3 linked regions of the Homo sapiens genome follow. The main gene of each other region encodes a partner of the protein of the gene in region 2 in a complex. Each region holds a gene or a part of one and is shown on either strand. Other genes may lie near its edges. The genes, in order: PRKAA2, PRKAB2 and PRKAA1. A codon is read from its position in the direction of its gene.

Region 1 (7,310 bases), about 91 Mb from region 2:
ACACAAAAGATGACATATTGAACGATCACGTTTATGAAGAAGAGCCTAGAAAAAGCAAATTTATACAGGCAGAAAACAGATTAGTGATTTCCTGGGACTGAGGGTAGAAATGAGATTAACTGTGAATGGGTATAAAGAATCTTACTGTGGTGTCCTCAAATGTCCTAAAACCTATCTATAATGATGGTTGCAACATTTGGCAAAATTAGTAAAAATCACTGAATTGTACACTTAGAATGGATGAATTTCATATATAAAATATACCTAAATAAGTTGTTTTCTTTTCTTTTCTTTTTTTTTTTTTGAGATGGAGTCTTGCTCTGCCGCCCAAGCTGGAGTGCAGTGATGCAATCTTGGCTCACTGCAACCTCTGCCTCTCGGGTCCAAGTGATTCTCCTGCCTCAGACTCCTCAGTAGCTGGGATTACAGGCGCCTACCACCACGCCTGGCTAATTTTTGTATTTTTAGTAGACATGGGGTTTCGCCATGTTGGCCAGGCTGGTCTCAAACTCCTGACCTCAATTGAACCGCCCGCCTCAGCCTCCCAAAGTGCTGGGATTACAGGTGTGAGCCACAGTGCCCAACCATAAAGCTGTTTTCTAACAAAAAAAAAAAACATGACTTTTTGTTTCGCTTGTCCCTTGAAGAATTATATGAGTAACAATTGTACTAATCCTAATCTTGGATAGGAAACCATGGTATCACTTTTGAGAGGATCTAACACAGTGTTAGGAAAACTCCTTCAACTGGTTGTTCATTGGACAGAGGTTCTCCAGGAAAAGAATTTCTCATAAATCAAAGTTCTTTCTGTTTATATTTTAAGAAGCCAGTGCCTGGAAACAATTCAAAAGTACATACAAGAGATTTAAGTTGTCTTTGGCAATGGACTGATTGATCTGATGAGTATTCTACTCTACATTCAGATTACAGTATATGAACTTAAAAAGACAAGCAAAAACTTTTAACACAATATGAAAGGACATAGGGTTAAGTTATATAACTTTGTGTGTACATGTCCAAATGTCAAAGGCGCTGTTTGCTTGAGCAACTGTATAATGTTGTAACACAATAGTCCTTAATAATAATACTAAATGACAAGTAACATTACAGGCATTAATCCAATCCCTGGATTGTCCTGTATTCATCTTAAATACATTCTAACTATCCACTCTACTTATAAGGTCTTTCAAAAATAACCCAGGACTTTATAACCCTCACAGGACAGCAAAGAATTTTACAAACTTTTTAGGTCTTTGCAAAAATACCACCTTGTCTGACCACCTTATTGAAAACTGCCAACCTCACAAGACTCTCTATCTTCCCTTCCCTGATTCGTTTTTCTCAATAAAATTAAACATACCTTTTACATATATATTCTGATTACTGTCTGCCTTCTCCTACTAGAAAGCTAAACAAAAAGATCTGTTTTTTCCTTGCTGTATCCTCATTGCCTAGAACAGTGCCTACCACGTTGCAGGTGCTCAGCGTTTTTTGAACACATGAATGAGTATTAAATATGTGCAAGAAAACAGGAGCTGATTCTTACCAAAGGAATGAAAAATGAGTCTCTTCTACTCATTCAACAGCCTTGACTTGGGGTTAAAATATGAATTTTACAAGGAAATAGAGACCTCAGAATAAAATTTCCAGACTGCCTACCCAGCATTTCTTCAGCAAAGAGAAAAAATAAAGGTCAATATTTCACTTATAATTCTGGATTTGCAACAAAGTATTTTTAATAAACAACTGTCTCTATTCTGGAGAGAAGGCAGGTTAATTAAATCACATGTGACTAATTAACAAAAAAGAAAACAAATGAAAGTTCCATACTTAACTATTCTTACTAGTTACTTAACTCGAATAAAGTATAACATTTCAAAAGCAGCCTGTTTTTCTACATTCAAAAGGGGATCCTATCTCCATGAAGACAGACCTTAGCAGAATATGCCTTAGCAGTCCTGACCTCCTCAGCCTCAAATCCTCCAAACACCAAGGAAACTTTTTCTCTCCCTTACCCTAGAAGTCTTCCCATAGCCATTTTACAAACACAAACACCTTCAGACCTCTCTGTTTTAATTAACCTCTGACCCAATCCAGCTGCATTCCAGCGTTAAACAACACCCCAGGAAGAAAGACTCACAACCTCTGGCCCCTGGAGCATCCCCCAAACAGTCACCCCCAACAACCGAGAGTCCTGGAACGTGAAGGAATCTGGGGATGGCAGGGACCTCCCAGCAAGACCAGAATTGGAGGACATCTTAGACTTCACTCTGGTACTGACCATTTCTGTGTGACCTTGGGCTTGTTACTACATCTCTAGGGGTCCTAGTTTTCTCACCTTTAGGGTGAGGACAACATGTTGACCAAGTCACTGTGAGGATTCAATGAGATTCCATGTAAAGCACCTAACAGGGCACCCGGCACGAAACGGCGCCTCAGTCCTCAGTAGCGTGGATGATCCCCGCCCTAAGCCTACAGGCTCAGAGCTGGAAGGCGCCTCGCAGAACGAGTCCAGTTCTCCCGATTTTGCAGAGGAGGACACTGAGGTCCAGAGAACACAGAAGTGCCTTGCTCCGACCTCCAGAAAGGCAGATGGGCGCGGAACCTGGAACCCAGGACGCCCATCCTCAGCTCACACCCCCGCCCTCTTCCCTGGACCCTGTGGGGCCCGGGCGCCGGTGCCAGGCGAGGCGGTGCGCGCCACCCTCCCGGGGCCCCAGCTCCGCGCGACCCGGGACCGCTCCACCTGCCGCCGAGCCCCGCGCCCGCCGGAGGCCCGGGGCTCCCGCCTCTCCCCTCGGCCTCCCGCAAGTCAGGCAGCCCCGCACAGCGGTCCGGAGCGCGTACTCAACTCTTCACTTTGCCGAAGGTGCCGACGCCCAGCGTGTCGCCCAGCACGTAGTGTCCGATCTTCACCCGCCCGTCGTGCTTCTGCTTCTCAGCCATCTTCGGCGCGCGCGGCCTCGCTCCACCGCCTGCCGCTCCGCGTAGCCGCCGCCGCCGCCGCCTACCCACAGTGCAGCGGGCCCTGCGGGCGAGGGGGCGGACCCCGAGCCGCGAGGGGCGCGGGGCGGGCGCGGGGTCCCGGGAGAGGGCGCTGGGCGCTTCGGGCCCAGGTGGGAAGCAACGGGCGAGCGGCGGGCGGGGCGGGGCCGAGGGAGGGAGCGCGAGGCGCCCGCTCCCGGGAGTGAGAGGCTCCTGCGGCGGAACCCGAAGCAGCGACAGCGGGGGCCGGGGACGCGGGGCGCTGGGCGGGAGTGCGGGAGGGGCTGCGCCAGATGCGCGGGGTCCGAGTGAGGGGCGGAGGCGACAGGTGCTGCGAGGGGGGTAGGCGAGGGTGCCGAGGGAGGCAGGAGGCCCTTTCTGAGGAAAACCGAAGGGGGTGAAAATAGGGGGTGAGACTGGGGCCCGATCCTAGGGAATGGAAAGACTTGGAAGTCAAACTGGAAGAAGAGACGGGCCTCGCATGTCGGGAGCGAGGGGCTGTAAAAGGGAAGAATCGGGAGGGGAGACTGCGGGAAGGGCCCTGGCCAAAGGGGCAGTGGCAGGAGAGCCTCTAGGAAGCTCCTCAAGTCTCGTCTGAGGCTTTTGGATACAGGTCGCGGCACAGGGAGAATGCACGCAGCTCTGTGCTCTCTTGAATTGTCCTCCTCTACTTATTCTGTAATTCCCAATTATTTTGTCCTATAGATGGAAGAGACCCTCTCCGCCAGAGCTCTCAATTTTAACTAATTTGCCCACAGTTTTCCAAAAAATCTCAGTCACGGTATTTGCTCGAGTGTTTTTTAGCACATGCTTATATAAATATGTAGTTTTACCACGCGCTTATATAAACATATAGTACCGAAATGTGATACAGCTGTACAAGAAGGAAATGGGAAAGACGTGGAAAGGGAAACAATGTTCTGCCCACAGAAAGTAAAATACGTAAGCGACAGAGGAATTGTGAAGGGCGAGGCCAGTATAAGGTCACATATTAAAGGAAGAATAAATGTGATATAGAAGTGAAAAGAGTGGTAAGAGGAAATTAGAAGCATGATGCCTAGGCAGCGTGTTCAAAGACTGACCTCCCCACCCTCCCCCACAAAAAAAAAGAAAAAAGACTGGCAAAGAATTAGGTAATAAAGCGATTATCTCTGCCTCTCTTCCTTCTCTCCCGCCCTTCCTTCCCTCCTTCCTTCCTTCCTTTAATGTTGTCTCATTCTTTAATGTTGTTCTGTCTTTCAGTGATTAAAGTTTATTTGCTTCTCACCACACACACAAAAAGATTCGTATACAATATGTTTGTTAATTAGCTTGACTTATAGCCATTCCACAATCAATATATTTCAAAACATATACATACTAAATATATACAATTTTTATTTGCCAATGAAATAAAAAATTTTAAAACAGTAAAAAAAAATTCTGTTTGGGGATAAGTAATTAAGGATTAGTCAAACATTTATAGCACTGCATGCCAGTAGAGTTTCAAGGTCACATTCCTCAAACATGAAGTCTCTTGAACACTGTTTATATGTAAATTGAAATGTATTGATCAAAAAGAATAGGACACAACAAAACTTTGTTTTCTGATAAGTACTAAATATAGAAATTTCAAACATTCATTCTCATCCAAACATCAAGACAATCTGATGAGAGATGATCACAGCTTATAAATTATAGATATCACAGCTGTTAAACAGAGGCTATTTTTGTTCATTCTTCAGATCATCTTTCTTGCTGACAAGTATCATCTAGGAATCACTCTACCTCGCTGGCAATTTTGAGAAAATAGCCAGTTATTTTTGTGCTGAACTTTCATCTGGTTAAGGGTCATTCCTTCAGTAGTCAAGTGAGTAAGAAAAGACCTATTCTGCTTTTGAGGTATGAGATGTATATGTCTTCTGCTCTAATATCCCGTTAAAAGATGTTGAAAAGTCTTCACTTGAAGTTAGATGATTGCTTTCTTGAAGCTACATAAAGACTAACTGTAAATTGAGATTTCAAAGCATTTCGTACTGTCTTAACTATTTGTTGATAAATACTGTAAGTTAAATTATTATATACTTCATAACTATGATTCTTACATAGCTACTGTGGACTACCTTATAGTTTTGTTACTATGTGAAACATCTATGATACTTTGTTGATTAAGAAGTTCATTTAAACACAATTATTTAATTGTCATAAAAGAAAGATTATTATTCCCATTTTATAGATGATAAAACTTAGTTTTTCCCTTTCTGATTTGCCCAGGGCTAAAAAGTGGCAGAGTCAGAACTCATATCCAGTTCTGACTTGTCCTTCAGTCTGCCTACTATACCGCAGCTGCCTATGCCAAAAGAAAGTATGGTGCTCTAAGAAAGTTAAAAATTGTCACAGTTGTGGTTCCATTTTCATATTTTTATTATTTCTTGGGCAGTCCAATAATATATCCTATAAATTTGTAAGTATTTAAACTACTTTTTGTTGTTTTTCTGACTTTTATTTAGAGGAAAGGTTGAATGGTAAGTGGGTAAGAAGGACAACTCTTGGTGGCAGTACTCAGCCCTCTGTTGTCCTGGACACTTCAAGATAAGGTTCCATATTTGCCTCTTCCTATTCAGCAGTAGAAAACTCGACAGTTAATCAGAGTAGATCTCCTTAAGGGTCATGCCTCTTGGAGGTCTCACCCCTAAAGATGACCTGGTAAATGCAATGTTCCCATTTTATTATCTTCCAATGAAGGTTTCACGCCGCTATTGTTTAGTACCAATCTCTAAGACCAGTGCCCCAGGGAGGTGTTCAGTTCTTAGCGCTGGTCCAACTATTGCTGCTTTACCCTCCTGCTTCTGAAACTTTGGGGTTGTTTTACCTTCAAATATTCTAAAATAAGTCCTGAGTAGGACATTAATGCAAGACCACTAAACTAATATACTGTACTAGACACCATTGGTATTATCAGTAACCAATTATTTCAAGTCTTTGCTCACAGTCACCTTCTTGGTGAACCCTACCCTGGCCACCCTATTTAAGTTGCAGTTTCTTTTTTTTTTTTTTTTTTGTAATTTTTTTTAAATTTTTTTTTTTTTTTTTTTTTTTTTTTAGAAGCAGGGTCTCGCCATGTTACCCAGGCTGGTCTCAAACTCCTGGACTCAAGTGATTGTCCTGCCTCAGCCTCTCAAAGTACTGAGATTATGGGCGTGAGCCACCGCACCAGGCCTAAATTGCAGTTTTATCTCACTCATGCTCTCTGCCCTGCACTCTCATCCCCTGACCCTCCTCAACTTTTTTACATAGCACTAGCCATGTAACATACTATTTAATTTATGTGCTTATTATATTTTTGTCTGTTTCTCCCAATTAGAATCTAAACTTCACAAAAGAAGAGAGGCCTTTTTTCTCTATTTTGTTCACTGATGTATCCTTAGCTCCCGGGACAATGCCTGACAAAATATAGATATCCAAGCAGATTCAGAATGTGGCACCTGAAGTTTATTCAGTGTGGGGGAATCTCTTTAAGGGAAAAAAAAAATGCAAAATTGGGTATGAAAGTGAGAATTTGAAGTGAAAAACAACTCTCTACAAATTTATAAAAGCTGACAAATGCCACAAACATCCCCAAATCCAGACAAATAACAATATTTTTATAAATTAATTATCTAACATACCTCTATAATACCTGTTTTCTACATTTTCTGGCTGTATACTCTTTGATTACCTCTTTATATTTTGTAAATTTTTAAATAGAATAGAAAGATAATTCTGACATTAAGCATGATTCATTAAGTTTTTCATCACATGTTTCTTTTTAGGTTTTCCATTGTACATGTTTAATATAGCTAATATAGAATTTATCAATTCTATTATCATATACATTATACATACATATAGATAGATACATATATGTATTTATATTTACATATTATATATGCAAATGATATGTTCATACCCCACTTGCTGTTTCTGGGGCCTAGTGGAACCTGGTATATCATTCCAAAAATATTTGCTAAATTGAATTTTAGAAAGGGTTAGTTACTAAGCTAGAGAATCAAGTAACAACAATACAGGGAAGAGTGCAGTTTTATTTTATGTATACACATATTAAAGGCAAAGCATAATTTTACATCTCAGCACAGCAGTCATTAGTGAGGTTAGAGAGGCATGAGTTAGCACCTTTGAAGTCTATAGATTCATGATATAGGGCTTCTATGGCTGTCTCCAATTTAAAATAAAAAATTTGGACACTCAATGAATAATAAAGGATGTTTATGGTATTTTATAGGAAGTACAAGCTCAATAATTACATTTTTAAAATTTTGTGTGAAAAACTTCAAACATACACAAAA
Region 2 (7,435 bases):
ACTAACTGGCTGCGTTAGAATTACAAGAATTTGACATATGCCTAAGAATAACCCTCAGATTCGGATGTAAGATCTGGGAACCTATTTTTAAAAAGCTTTCTAGATAACACTGTGATTATGTTAAAATAAAGGAAAAAAAGCTTCCCAGATATACCGTGATTATGTTAAAATAACAAAGAAAAAACCCTCATCTTTAGAGGTACATCCTAAAATGTTACAGATAAAATAATACTTGATATAATATCTGGGAATTTGCTTCAAAATAACTAGTGGGAGAATAGTGGACTGGGGTATAGATGTTATATGTTCATTCAAGATATGATCATTGTTCAAACTGGGTGGCATGTATATAGATGTCATTATACTGTTTCCCCCTACTTTGAAAGTGTTTCAAATTTTCCAAAAACTATTTAAAGAAATCTGAGGTGATTCTAATGTGCAAACAGGATTGAGAACCACTGAACTAGTCCACTGAAAAAGGCAGGCATTCAAAGCAAAGTAGGCCCCCCTGCCACTGTTTCTGTCAGTTACTTTTATGACAGGATTTTCAGTTTAGAATTTGAAAGCTACAAACTATTAATATGCCTAGCTTTGGAGGAAAGCCCTTCCACTTATGACATGACATTTCTGTAGTAGGAATGAATGCAACTGACTAGCAGAAAGATTGTTTACTCCAAGTTACTCAGCAAAACTACCAGGAAAAGAGGCAAAACGACAATCAGAACTACAGTTTGATGTTTAAGTAAAATGTTGAGTTTAGAAGTAAAGAGGCTACATTGAGAACTATAAAATTTTAGACTTAAATGAGACCTTAGGAATTATCTGATTTTCAGACAATCTGAAAATTATATGAATAATTTTCTTAATTCACAAATGCCAAGACTGAGGTGAGAGATAAGAATAATACAAAATAGGCCCCAATTCAGACAGAGCAACCTGGCTTTTAATCAGGACACCAATTACTGCAGTCACAGTTCGACAAATACACTGTATTTAAATCCTGAGTCATCAACATAGGAAAAGGGTAAAAATATAATGAGGCGGATCACCTTTCGAAAGCTTTGAAGAAGTAAATTCAGATGGCTTGTAGATAGCCCAAATAAGAATGGAGAATTGGAGAATAAACCCCAATAAGTGCTCCTTTTAATCACTCTCACTTCTCTGTGATTATGGTTGGTTTTTTTGTTTTTTTGTTTTTTTGTTTTGAGAGTCTGTCACCCAGGCTGGAGTGCAGTGGTTTGATCTAAACTCACTGCAACCACCGCCTCCCGGGTTCAAGCGATTCTCCTGCCTCAGCCTCCCGAGTAGCTGGGACTACAGGCATGCACCAGCATGCCCGGCTACTTTTTCTGTATTTTTAGTAGAGACGGGGTTTCACCATGTTGGTCAGGCTGGTCTCGAACACCTGACCTCAAATGATCCAACCGCCTCGGCCTCCCAAAGTGCTGGGATTACAGGCGTGAGCCTCTGCGCCAGGCTGTGATGATGTTATCAATTGAGATCCAAAGAAATAAATCATGGAATCCAAATTCCATGTGCTACCAATATGGCAAACAATACTCTATTCACTCTCTAAAGCCCCAGTTCCCTGGGAAGTGATGAAATGATAGGAAACATCAAACACACCCGAATCTCCTCAAGCCCTCCATTTTTCTATCTCATCCAGTCAGTCTACCTGGAGGAATTACTTGTATTTCATGCTGACAGCTCTGAAAGCCATTAGAAACATTAGAATGGTAATCGCTGCTATCAGCTCCATCTGTCCTTTCTTACAGAGTGAAAACAAGTTGTTCTCTTCCTGAAAGTCCTTGGAATTGAGAGCAAGGTCTTCAGGGCAGCTGTGGGTTGTCGTTTTTTTAGCCACGCAACATTTTGAAGTACTACTGAGGAGTAAACAAGTCGTGGAATCATTGGCTCTTCCACCTACGGAGCAGCAGCGGGGCGTGAAAGAGGCACAGCCTCAGCCACCACAACTATAAAGTATGGGACAAAAATTAAGCAGTCAACTAAATGATGTCCTTAATTGATCCCCAAGACTAGGAGAAAGTATTCAATAAGCAAGTAGTTGCTGCTTACAGCCGTGCCAAAAGGGAAGAGGATCACAACTGTAGAGCTGCTAGAAGAGCAAAAATGATACTGATACATAGAAATTTTCAGAAAAAGAATTTCATTTAGCCACCTCAGGGCAAAGGTGAGAAACTACCACCTATGGTCAGCAACTCGTGCAACCTACCCTCTGAAGTTGTCCACCAGGGATTACAAACTACAAATTCAGCAACGCTATGGAAGAGAGCCATTCGTGCTCGGAGGATCGGGGATGGGGGGATGTCTATTGTCCCCATCCTAAAAATGTGGCCAACAGATTAGTCAGAACACCAGGAAAGCAAGAACTCCGCCTCTTTATCCTATTTTGAGGCGGCACTTCAAGAGGAATTATCATCCAACACCTCTGTCCCCGATAAATCCCTTTAATTCAAAAAACCATAGCCCGGTTCGGCGCGGTAGAAAAGAACCAAGAAAGGGAAGAGGAGCCCAGAAATCAACCCGCTGCAGTACTGACACCAACTGCGGGCATGGGACGCTTACCTTGGAGTCAGGGAGGCTGAACACGCTGGGGTCGTCCGTACTCCCCACCATGATCTTGTGCTCCTTCCCCGGGGCATGGCCGCCTGCGCCCTCGGAGCGTGCAGCCTTGGCGCCGTGGCGCTCCCCGGACACCCGGTCGCTGGTGGTGTTTCCCATGGCTGCAGCTCGTCGGGGACCACCTACCGCGGGGAACGACACCGGGCTGGGAACACCTCAGCCGCCGCGTCAGGGGCGCCCCCCGGCCCCGCCCCTGCGCCTCGGGACAGGGCAAGGGATTCCCCGCCCCAGGGAAGCCGAGCCCTGGAGCCCTCTCCCTCCTGGCCTGCGGGAACGCCTGCAAATACCCCGGTGCCCTCACTGGCCCTAGCTCAGGAAACCCGCTATCGGGACCTCCCCCGCGTCCCCGCGCTCACTGCCAGGGGCGCCCCCACTCCAGTCACCTCGGGCGATGCGCTCCCTCCTCCAAGGGCCACTGATGTGATGGCTGTTCTGCAGATCAGGCCACCAATAAAGTTATTGAAATTGAAGCCGCACCCCTCGCTGGCGACCAGCGATTCCTCCTAAAATGGCTACAAGGCCGGCGGCGCGGAGTCCGCCCAGTGCGCGTTCCCTGCGGCCTGCAGCCTCGGCGCCCGGGACCCGCCGGCCTCTCTAGCCGCCGCCGCCGCCGCCTCGATGGTGGGCAGTCGCACGCAGCCTCCAGCGCCAGGAGGGGGCGCCAGGCAGGGCCTGTCCCGCCTGGGGAGACTGCGCCCGGGATAATAGGAGCGCTTGGCCTCTGAGACTACCCGGCAGAAGGGACGTCCCCAAATGACACTCGGAGGCCGCCTCCCTGGGCTCCGGTGCTCGGTGCCGGGAGGAGCGGCACGGCTTTCTACCCCGCCTCAGGTGCGCCAGCACGTTTTCTGGGCAGCATCTGTGTGTTAGGCGACCGGAGAGGTGGGTTCCTTATAGGGAATAAGAAAACTGAAACTGACTTCCAACTGCAGGCAGAAGGAAGCAGTGGTCATTGCTGGAGGTTAAAACTGTTCTGACCGGGCGCAGTGGCTCACGCCTGTATTCCCAGCACTTTGGGAGGCTGAGGCGAGCAGATCACGAAGTCAGGAGATCAAGACCATCCTGGCCAACAAGGTGAAACCCCGGCTCTACTAAAAATACAAAAATTAGCTGGGCGTGGTGGCGCGCGCCGGAAGTCCCAGCTACTTGGGAGGATGAGGCAGAAGAATCGCTTGAACCCGGGAGGCGGAGGTTGCGGTGAGCCGAGATCGCGCCATTGCACTCCAGCCTGGCGACTCAGCGATACTCCGTCCCCCTCTCCCCGCCCCAAGAAAAATCTGTTCAGTGGGGAGCGACAAGGAAGGAGCTTTCAGCCCGACTGGGGTCGCAGGGAAGAATTCAAGATGGCGTGTTTAGGAGCTCTAGCTCCTTGACAAATTAGTAAAATGTTAGTCTTAGGAGAAGAACGAAAAGGCTCTCCTAGGCTAAGAAACAGCATACACAGTGAGAAACCTCAGAAGAAATAAAATTCAAGGAAGATAGCAACAACGAAAACATCAGAAGGAACACTAAAGGTATAAAAAGGGCAAAGACAGCCCTAGGGTTGGGAGGGATCCAGGTTTTTTATGAAAATTAGTGGAATCCCTAAGGTACTTACCTTTGTATTATAAGTATTTGCATGTCTCCTTCTAGAAACGTTTATCACTCTGTGTTACACAGACCAGCAGTGTTGGCGTCAACTGGGAGCCTGTTAGAAATGCAGAATCAGGCCCCATCCCCAGGGTTCTGAATCTGCATTTTAACAAGATCACATTAAAGTGTGTGAGAAGCAATGCTTTGACAGCTGGCAGAGAGCAGATCCAGATTTGATACCTTTTCATATTCTGCATGTACCTTATACAGAGTAGGCTTTTGCATTTGCGGAATGAAGGATACAGGAATACTGTTTACTGTAATCCATTTCTAACCAGATATGCCACTTAGGCTTAAACACGGCCAATGATGGGGAACCCCAAGTTACATAGGCCACCCTTTCTGAGTGAGCAGCTCTATTTGCTGAAACGTTCATTTTTATATTATGAAGTTGACATCCCACTTAAGTACAACAAATTCACTACTCCCCTATTCTTTGCTCTGCCTCTTATAAACTCATTCTTTGGCTCATAAACCAAAGACAGTTTACAGGAAGAAAAAAAAAAGGTACGATTTTACTGCAACTTCTTGCTCACCCCTCCAAAATCTTTATGTCTGAGTACATGCTTTTTGGTTATCCCTACTTTTCTCCCTCCACCCCTCAATTCCTTACCATAGGACACTGAAGCAAGGCCCTTGAAGATACATAATACATTAAACCTTGACTTGTGTAGTATTCAGTTTTCTGACCCCAAGGTGGTTTCACCATGCCAAATAATATGTCCTTGGTATGTATTTCCTTGCAGTAGTCAAATCAGCCTAGCAGAAACAAAGTACGTTAACCAATGGAAAACTGACGGAGAGAAATAAACTGTTTTTGCACAGCTAAATGGAAATGACTTTTGAATTATCTGCTTTGGAAGATTATCCATGACACTGTTCTGCCCTGCTCTGCTCTAACAACATTTGTAAGTCACTCAACAGTTAATAATAAAAGTCAGTTTTGAATATTGCAGGTTTTAGACACAGAACAAATGTAATGTGACACTGTAGGAAGAATGAATTCTCCTTAGTCCCAAATTCCTTTTTTTTTTCTTAGATTCGGGAATAAGTAAAGATACAAGATCCTCTTAACCAGTATCAGTATAATTGTTCCCTTTAGATTTATTGCTGTCACCCCAATGCTCTTCTTTCTTTCTAGAGGAAAGGAAAAGAAGGAGGTAATAGGAAAAGTAATGGGTTGTCCTGATGTTACTGTGTCTAGGATGTCATTGCCACTGGTCTCCTCAGATCAATCATTCTGCCTAATAAACAGAAAAATAACATGGGCAGCCTCACATGCAAGCCTTTACACACACTGCTAAAGAGACCTCGCTTCCTCTGAGAAGTGAGGATGTGAGAATGAAGGATTGATTTTACAGAACTGGATGACAGGTTAAATTGGGCATCTGGAGGTTTATATTCCCATCTCCACTCACCAAGTTTCATCCTCCATTTATGACCAAGGATAGGTATAACATCTGATCTTGATGGTTACTGTTTCAAAAAACAATCTGATCTTTTTTATAAAGTTAAACATTTACTTAATCATGCAGCATACTAATTCCCACTCCTGGGTATTTATCCGAGTGACATAAAAACAAGTTCACACAAAACCTGTAAACACATATATGTCTTTATTCATATAATAGAAAAAACACAAACCCTAAAATGGAAAAAACATAATGTCCTTCACCTGGTGATATGGTTTGGTTCTGTGTCCCCACCCAAATCTCATCTCAAATTGTAATACCCACGTGTTGAAGGAAGGACCTATAACCTTCACGTGTCAAGGGAGGGAAGTGATTGGATGATGGGGGCGGTTTCCCCCATGCTGTTCTTGTGATGGTGCATGAATTCTCACCAGAGATGATGGTTTTAAAAGTGTTTGGCAGTTCTTCCTTCATTCACACACACTCACTGTCTCTCCCCTGTGCCACATAAGATGAGCTTGCTTCCCTTCTACCATAACTGTAAGTTTCTGAAGTCCTCCCCAGCCATGCAGAACTATAAGTAAATTAAACCTCTTTTCTTTATAAATTACCTAGTCTCAGGTATGTCTTTATAGCAGTGTGAAAATAGGCTAATACATCTGGTGAATCAATAATTAAAATGTAGCATAGCTATAAATGGAATACTACTCAGTAATAAAAGAATAACTCGATACATACAATAATATTGATGAATCTCAAATGCATTATGGGAAGTAAAAGAAGCCAGGCTCCACTTATGTGACATTCTGGAAAAAGGAAGACTATACGGTCAGAAAACAGATCAGTGTTTGCCAGGACTTGGGGGTGGGGGGTGGGGAGTGATTGACTACAAAAGGGCATGAAGAAATTTTGAAGGGGAGGTATGGAACAGGTCTGTATCTTGACTGCAGTGGAGTTATTGATACTTACCAAACTGTACAATAAAAAGTAAATTTTTATTGTATGAAAATTATGCCTAAATTAAAAACTATTAATAAAATCAGCATTAGCAAAATATATGAGTTTATACACAAGAGACTACTCAACCATTGGGTAAACTAATTATTTTTAAACAAATACCATTGATTTTAATCTTTTTATAGTTTTTATACAGGCAGAGAAATAATAGTGATTCTGCTCACCTAAAGGAAGATAGACCCAATTCAAAGGTACAGAATTTTCCCCAAATAGTATCATAATTTTTCCTTTCAGATTCCAAAGGATTTGCATGTAAATTCTATCATGTGATCCTCAGAACCACCCTATGAGGGTAAGCAGAACAGATGATCCATGATATTCCATTTTATAAATGAGGTGCAGGTTAAATATTTAGCCAGTATTTCTTGATAAGTATAGTCCATTTATTTCAACAAACCTTGATTGAGGGCCCCAATACTTGTTGAGCTTTTGCTGAGCCACCCCTGCTCTAGAGGAGCACATGCTCTGGAAATCTCTAAGGAAACTACTACAACTCTAAATAGATATGGTGTATAGTGATACTGTGACTAAATATTCACTGCAAATTTCCTCTAAAATTATAGATATACATTACTGGAATAATTAGTATCTCAACATCTTCATTAACTATGAATCTACTATGTATATATCATCACCATGTGAGTATTAATTTGGTACAAATAGGCTGCCAACTCTAAAATTATTTGATGTAGGGCAAGTACTTTTATCTTTTTAGCCATAAATTTTCTCAT
Region 3 (7,106 bases), on a different chromosome or scaffold from region 2:
ATGGAAATGGACCCTTATCTCACCCCTTAACAAGTATCAACTTAAAATGGATTAAATTTAGGACCTGAAATTACAAATCTACTAGAAGAAAACTTAGGCGAGAAGCTCCATGACACAGGTTTGGGCAATCATTTCTTGTATATGATCCCCTAATGCACAGGCAACAAAAGCAATAATAAACAAATGGGATGACATCAAACTAAAAAGCTTCTGAACAGCAAAAAACAAACAAACAGGCCAGACGCGTAATCCCAACACTTTGGCAGGCCGAGGCAGGCGGATCACAAGGTCAGGAGTTCGAGACCAGCCTGACCAACATGGTGAAGCCCTATCTCTACTAAAAATACAAAATTAGCTGAGCGTAGTGGTGCACACCTGTAGTCCCAGCTACTCATGAGGCTGAGGCAAAAGAATCGCTTGAACCCGGGAGGCGGACGCTGCAGTGAGCCAAGATCACGCCATTGCACTCCAGCCTGGGTGACAGAGGGAGACTGCATCTCAAAAAAACAAACAAACAAGCAAAAACAAATAGAGTGAAGAGACAACCCAAAGACTGAGAAAACGTATTTACAAATCATGCATCAGATATATAGCTAATATCCGGCCAGGCATGGTGGCTCATGCCTGTAATCTCAGCACTTTGGGAGGCCGACGCGGGTGGATCACTTGAGCCCAAGAATACAAGACCAGTCTAAGCAACACAGTGAGACCTTGTCTCTATAAAACATACATAAATTAGCCAGGCGTGGTGGTGTATGCCTGTAGTCCCAGCTACTTGGGAGGCAGAGGTGGGAGGATCGCTTGAGCCCAGGAGGTCAAGGCTGCAGTGAGCCATGATCATGCCACTGCACTCCAGCCTGGGCAACAGAGTGAGACACTGTCTCAAAAATAAAAATAAAAAAAAAGACAAACAAATGGCCAACAGATAGATGAAAGAATGCTGAACATCTCTAATCATAAGAGAAATGCAAATTAAAGCCACAATAAGGTATCACCTCACACCTGTTAGACTGGCTATTATCAAAAAGGTGAAAGATAAGTGTTAGCAAGGTCACAGAGAAATGGAACACTTATACACTGCTGGTGAAACTATAAATACAGCCATTTTGTAAAACAGTGTAGAGGTTCCTCACAAAACTAAAAATAGAATTACTATATGATCCAGCAATCCCATTACTGAGTATATATCCAAAGGAATTGAAATCAGTATGTCAGAGGTGTCTGAGACTCACTTATATTTGGAATCTAAAAAAGTCAAACTCACAGAAGTAGAGAGTAGAATGGTGATTACCAGTAGCTGGGGTAAGTGGGGCTGGAGGGGAAAAGGAAGATATTGGTCAATGGCTACATAAAATTACAGTCAGGAGGAACAGGATCCTGGTGTTGTATTGCATAGCATCATGATTACAGTAAATATATTAATTTTTCAAAAGAGTTAAAAAAGGGAACTTTAAATGTTCTCACCACAAAGAAATGATAAATATTTGAGGAGATGGATATACTACTTGGCCTGATTTGATCAGTGCAGAATGTATACATGTATCAAAACATCACATTGTGCCCCATAAATATATACAATTGTTATTTATTAAAGATAGATTTTCTTTTTTATTTACTTATGGTAGGAATGGCCTTCATTGGTTGCAATAGGAAGCGAAAGAGGAGACCTGAAATCAAATGAAAAAGCGTAAGCATCCTGGGGAGAAGCCCACTGGATCTCAGTTCTGCCCTGCTCAGGAAAGTTCAGTATCCAGGTGACTGAGAACAGAACCGGCTGGCACCAAAGACATGATTTTGAGGGGGCCGGAGCCCTTTCCCTTTGCCTCCATACATAACAGGAGCAGGACCACACACTCAGTCCCTGACAAGAAAAGGAGGGTGGATTTTCTAAACTATGATATTCACCATTAAAATTAACAAGTTAACAGAAGTAATATTTTTTGAAAACAGGTTTTCTAATTGTACTACACATGATCATGACTTCTTAAATGGAACACATGTACATGAAGACTGGGAACCAAACAAATGTTAACTTATGAGTATCAACTGCTCCTTATACCCTCACACAGTGACAGCAGTGGGAGTTATTTAGCAGGATAGGGCTTTTTGCTCCCAGCCTATAGTGTTCCAGCTCGTGTGGTTTTCCGCTTTTTGAATTTGTATCCCAGCCTTCATAGTCTATCAGGAGTCAACTCTTTCTTTTTTTTTTTTTTTGTTGTTGTTGTTGTTGTTGAGATGGAGCCTCGCTCTGTCGCCAGGCTGGAGTGCAGTGGCACAATCTCGGCTCACTGCAACCTCTGCCTCCGGGGTTCAAGCAATTCTCCTGCCTCAGCCTCCCGAGTAGCTGGGACAACAGGCGCATGCCACCACACCCAGCTGATTTTTGTATTTTTAGTAGAGATGGGGTTTCACCATGTTGGCCAGGATGGTCTCAATATCTTGAGCTCGTGATCTGCCCGCCTTAGCCTCCCAAAAGTGCTGGGATTACAGGCGTGAGCCACCACACCCGGCCTTCAGTAGCATAATACTTTTTAAAATATGGCATCTAATAGCTTAGGAGACACTCACATTATCACATTTGAGCATAAACCTATGATGGAGGTATTGTCTTTTACAGATAAAGAAACTGAGGCTCTAAGAGATTCTGTAAGTTGTGGAAGTAAAGCTATTGTGATCAAGTTGGGACAGGTCTTCCGACTCCCAAGTCTTTTGACCTATCCACTCTCCCCACCATCACTGTGCAGTGAGAGGGACAAAGGGCTTGGCATGGTATCAGAAACTAAACTGTTTTCTCAAAACCAGGCTAAATATTCTCCCCAGTGAGTAAACTCAGTTGTAGCCAAACTAAATGCTGTTCCATAGTCAATCAATGAATGTAGTAAATGGACTCTGTCAGGCATATGCACTACTAAGGGATTCCCCCCTTTTTCAAAATTCAAACTTTATTCTTCAGACTGTCAGTTTTTAGAATAGTGCTAAGGTTTTGCTTTTAAATGAAACGGAAGACAGATATTTTGGCCACGGAAGACTTGCACATTACTCAGAGCAAATATTACCAGCATTCACAATGTCCCCCTCACAAGAATAGCAGATTAGTCAACTAAATATTAGCTAACAACCATGCTATTGCTATCTAAAGGGAACTTTGTCTAACTGCATAACATTGTAACAAATGCTCTTCTAATTAGATATATAATCCTGAAGGGAAACAAGATCATACTTTGAAACAGAGGATTTTAATAGGACAGAGAAGCAGCAAAGATAGAAATATCTACTAAAGATATTCTAGACACCTAACCATTTCATTCCCACTTTAAAATTGAAAGAATAAAAACGTGTTAAGGAAATAGCTTAATCCTGGGGAAGGGTGGGCTTTAAAAGCTATAGATCGTAATTTAAGAAAGCAAACAAACATTTCAAGCACACCAAGGGCATTCCAAATACCCATGAGCCACCATCAGCTTAAGCAATAAAACATTACAAATACAACTCAAGCCCTGCATGACTCCTCCCAGATTCCCTTATCCTTCATCTGTCCTCAGAAGTAACCACTATCCTGAATTTGGTGTTTGTGTTTCCCACGTTTAAATATTTTTACATGGGTAGGAATCCATAAAAAATATAGTAACATTATTTTTCATATTTATTTTTACAAATGTCATTGCATATATTTTGATAACACAATACCTGCACTATACACACAGTTCAAAAGTACAAAAGCATCTATGGTGCAACACAATGTCCTCCTTTACCTAGTCCCCTATACTGAGCAACTAACGTAACCAGTCTTGTGTGTATCTTTAAAGAGACATACTCTATATATAAAAGCAGTCACATTTAAGATACAGATTTGCCCCTGCCTTTTATACATAAGTGGTAGGCATATTGAACACACTGTTCTACTTTTTCCTCTTAAAAATACACCTTGGAAATTGTTCTCTAAAATATACAAAGTTCCTCCCTTTTTCTTCCTTAATGTTTGCAAGGTATTTCACTATATGGATAAACCATAACTATTACTATTAGAAAGGTTACTTCGAAAGTTTTGTATTAATATTTACAACAATATGGCAGCGAATAACCCATTATTTCATACACGAGTACATCTATAAAATAATTCCTAGAAGTTGAATTGTTAGGTTAATTTTAATAAATGCTGTCACTCTCTCATGTAGAGGTAGGATACCAATTTATACTCTACCAGCATTGTATGAGTGGTTCTGTAGGTTTCTAAAATTTATATAAATAACAGCAAACTATACATATTCTTATACAACTTGCTTTCGAGGTCTAACCTTATATTTTTAAGATTCATTCACACTGATATATATAGCTCTAGTTCATGTTTATAATTTTTACTTAAAGGAATTTTTAAATAACTTCTACTATGATTCATTCACAAAGTACCTATGTAGCTGAAATTGCAGTTTTACACAGAAATACTTACGAACTTAGGCCAAGCATGGTGGCTCATGCCTGTAATCCCAGCACTGTGGGAGGCTGAGGTGGGTGGATCACCTGAGGTCAGGAGTTCGAGACTAACCTGGCCGACGTGGTGAAACCCCATCTCTACTAAAAATACAAAAAAAAAATAGCTGGGCGTAGTGGTGGGCGCCTATAATCCCAGCCACTTGGGAGGCTGAGGCTGGAGAATCGCTTGAACCCGGGAGGTGGAAGTTGCAGTGAGCTGAGATCGCACCATTGCACTCCAGCCTGGGCGACAAGAGTGGAACTCCATCTCAAAAAAAAAAAAAGAAAAAGAAAAAAAAGAAATACTTGCCAACTTAATAGTTTATATGTATAAATAACTCATTTGCCGAAGATACACCCAGCCTACCAAAGAGACCATCTTCTCTAGAAAAACTAACAAAGACTGCCATTTTAATGATATTACTCTGCTCATCCATGCTTTTTTTGGGCAGAGGGAAGGCCCACAAGGGCACAGAACCTAACATCTTGATAACTAGAAGGAAAAAAAAAAGATGCCTTGGAAACAATAAAGACAATTCAAGCATAATCACAAAATAACCCTAGTTTTCTGTAAACTTTCCTCTCAAAATGCTACCACTAAGTAACCAAACAAATTTTTTGGCCTGTAACAGGAAACAATCACTCCGAACTTCCAGCCTACTCTCCCCGCAAAATTAAATTTCCTATAAGCATGGAATATCATACTTAGACTTTTTCTGCATATCAATATCATATATTTTATTAGATCCCTCTTCATGTTAAATTTACCAATATGTATAAGTAATTTTTAAAGCTTTCTTTACTCCAAATTGTCTAAACATATGGTTAACCCTATTATTTGCAAGAATTCTTGCATAATTAAGGCTGTTGGTGTTTAATTACCAACATCACCACAATAGTGGCCATTTCTGTGTGTTCACTGAGTATCCATGTCCCCCTTTCTCTCTCCTAACAACATCCATTTATGTGTAGGTGTCTACCCTGTCCCCCCACACTATCCAAGTACTTAGAAGATGTCTCCCAGCCCAGCACGGTGGTTCAGGCCTGTAATCCCAGCACTTTGGGAGGCCGAGGCGGGTGGGATCACCTGAGGTCAGGAGTTCAAGACCAGCCTGGCCAACATGATGAAACCCCATCTCTACTAAAAATACAAAAATTAGCAGGACGTGGTGGCACACGTCTGTAATCCCAGCTACTAGGGAAGTTGAGGCAGAAGAATCACTTGAACCTGGGAGGCAGAGGTTGCAATGAGCTGAGATTGCGCCAATGCACTCCAGCCTGGGTGACAAGAGCAAAACTGTCTCCAAAAAAAAAAAAAAGTGTTCCCTGTTCACCACATGCACACTAAAATCTATCTACTGCTTTTTGATTTTTTGATGATGGCCATTCTTGCAGGAGTGAGGTGGTATCACATTGTGGTTCTGATTTGCATTTCCCTGATCATTAGGGATGCTGAGCATTTTTTCATGTTTGCTGGCCATTTGTATATCTTCTTTTGAGAACTGTCTATTCATATCCTTAGCCCACTTTTTGATGGGACTATTTGTTTTTTCTTACTTATTTGTTTGAGTTCATTGTGGATTCTGGATATTAGTACTTTTTCAGATGTATTGATTAGGAAGATTTTCTCCCACTGTGTGGGTTGTCTGTTTACTCTGCTGTTCCTTTTCCTGTGCAAAAGCTCTTCAATTTAATTAGGTCCCATCTATTTATCTTTGTTTTTATTGCATTTGCTTTTGGGTTCTTAGTCATTAAATCCTTGCCTAAGCCAATGTCTAGAAGGGTTTTTCCAATGTTATCTTCTAGAATTTTTATAGTTTCAGGTCTTAGGTTTAAGTCCTTAATCCATCTTGAGTTGATTTTTATATAAGGTTGAGAGATGAGAATCCAGTTTCATTCTCCTACATGTGGCTGGCCAATTATCCCAGCACAATTTGTTGAAAAGGGTGAACAGGGAACACTTCTACACTGCTGGTGGGAATGTAAACTAGCACAGCTGCTATGGAAAACAGTGTAGATATTCCTTAAAGAACTAAAAGTAGAACTACCATTTGATCCAGCAATCTCTTCTGAAAAGAAGTCATTATTCGAAAAAGATACTTGCACATGCATGTTTATAGCAGCACAATTCACAATTGCAAAATCGTGGAACCAATCCAAATGCCCATCACTCAATGTATGGATAAAGAAACTGTGGTGTATACATATATATACACACACACACACACACACACACACAAAATGGAATACTACACAGCCATAAAAAGGAATGAATTAACAGCATTTGCAGTGACTTGGATAAGAGTGGAGACTATTATTCTAAGTGAAGTAACTCAGGAATGGAAAACCAACACAGTATGTTCTAATCACTGATATGTGGGAGCTAAGCTATGAGGACGCAAAGGCATAAGAATGATACAGTGGACTATGGGGACTTGAGGGGGAAGAGTGGGAGAGGGGTGAGGGATAAAAGACTACAAATATGATGCAATGTATACTGCTCAGGTGATGGGTGCACCAAAATCTCACAAATCACCACTAAAGAATTTACTCATGCAACCAAATACCATCTGTACCCCAATAACTTAAAGAAAAATTTAAAAAATAAAACAAATTTTAAAAAAAAGATGTCTCCC

What was found.
Region 1: the proteins of PRKAB2 (region 2) and PRKAA2 are in contact, whole or in part, in a crystal structure (PDB 6B2E), measured with the Homo sapiens proteins. Residues at the interface, in NP_005390.1 of Homo sapiens: Val60, Ser61, Gln64, Glu67, Asp68, Ser69, Thr73, Gln74, Ala76, Pro78, Thr79, Val80, Ile81, Arg82, Ile106, Ser108, Val113, Ile115, Val155, Ser158, Asp159, Phe160, Glu161, Phe163, Asp164, Lys167, Leu168, Gln191, Met193, Tyr194; in NP_006243.2 of Homo sapiens: Gly9 (codon at 2,922), Arg10 (codon at 2,919), Val11 (codon at 2,916), Lys12 (codon at 2,913), Ile13 (codon at 2,910), Thr21 (codon at 2,886), Asn48, Arg49, Val58, Gln66, Gln81, Val82, Ile83, Ser84, Thr85, Pro86, Thr87, Asp88, Phe89, Met134, Met164, Ser165, Asp166, Gly167, Glu168, Phe169, Leu189, Ala191, Glu194, Pro253.
Region 3: the proteins of PRKAB2 (region 2) and PRKAA1 are in contact, whole or in part, in a crystal structure (PDB 4RER), measured with the Homo sapiens proteins. Residues at the interface, in NP_005390.1 of Homo sapiens: Val80, Arg82, Ser84, Ser108, His109, Asp111, Ile115, Ser138, Asp159, Phe160, Glu161, Val162, Ala165, Leu166, Ser182, Ser184, Gly190, Gln191, Glu192, Met193, Tyr194, Ala195, Phe196, Glu199, Arg201, Lys203, Ser204, Pro205, Pro206, Ile207; in NP_006242.5 of Homo sapiens: Gly20, Val22, Lys40, Lys42, Asn59, Arg60, Gln61, Lys62, Val69, Arg73, Val93, Ile94, Ser95, Thr96, Pro97, Ser98, Asp99, Ile100, Met145, Met175, Ser176, Asp177, Gly178, Glu179, Phe180, Arg199, Leu200, Ala202, Pro204, Glu205.

The regions. Positions count from the first base shown.
Region 1 is NC_000001.11:56,641,024-56,648,333, reverse strand, and holds the start of PRKAA2 (5'-AMP-activated protein kinase catalytic subunit alpha-2), read right to left. Parts: upstream 3,021-7,310; 5' UTR 2,947-3,020; coding exon 2,853-2,946; intron 2,582-2,852; exon of another isoform or gene 2,339-2,581; intron 1-2,338. UniProt on the Homo sapiens protein: Catalytic subunit of AMP-activated protein kinase (AMPK), an energy sensor protein kinase that plays a key role in regulating cellular energy metabolism.
Region 2 is NC_000001.11:147,169,403-147,176,837, forward strand, and holds the start of PRKAB2 (5'-AMP-activated protein kinase subunit beta-2), read right to left. Parts: upstream 3,069-7,435; 5' UTR 3,027-3,068; exon of another isoform or gene 2,766-3,026; 5' UTR 2,743-2,765; coding exon 2,587-2,742; intron 1-2,586. UniProt on the Homo sapiens protein: Non-catalytic subunit of AMP-activated protein kinase (AMPK), an energy sensor protein kinase that plays a key role in regulating cellular energy metabolism.
Region 3 is NC_000005.10:40,788,327-40,795,432, forward strand, and holds part of PRKAA1 (5'-AMP-activated protein kinase catalytic subunit alpha-1), read right to left. Parts: intron 1,879-7,106; exon of another isoform or gene 1,745-1,878; intron 1,708-1,744; exon of another isoform or gene 1,626-1,707; intron 1-1,625. UniProt on the Homo sapiens protein: Catalytic subunit of AMP-activated protein kinase (AMPK), an energy sensor protein kinase that plays a key role in regulating cellular energy metabolism.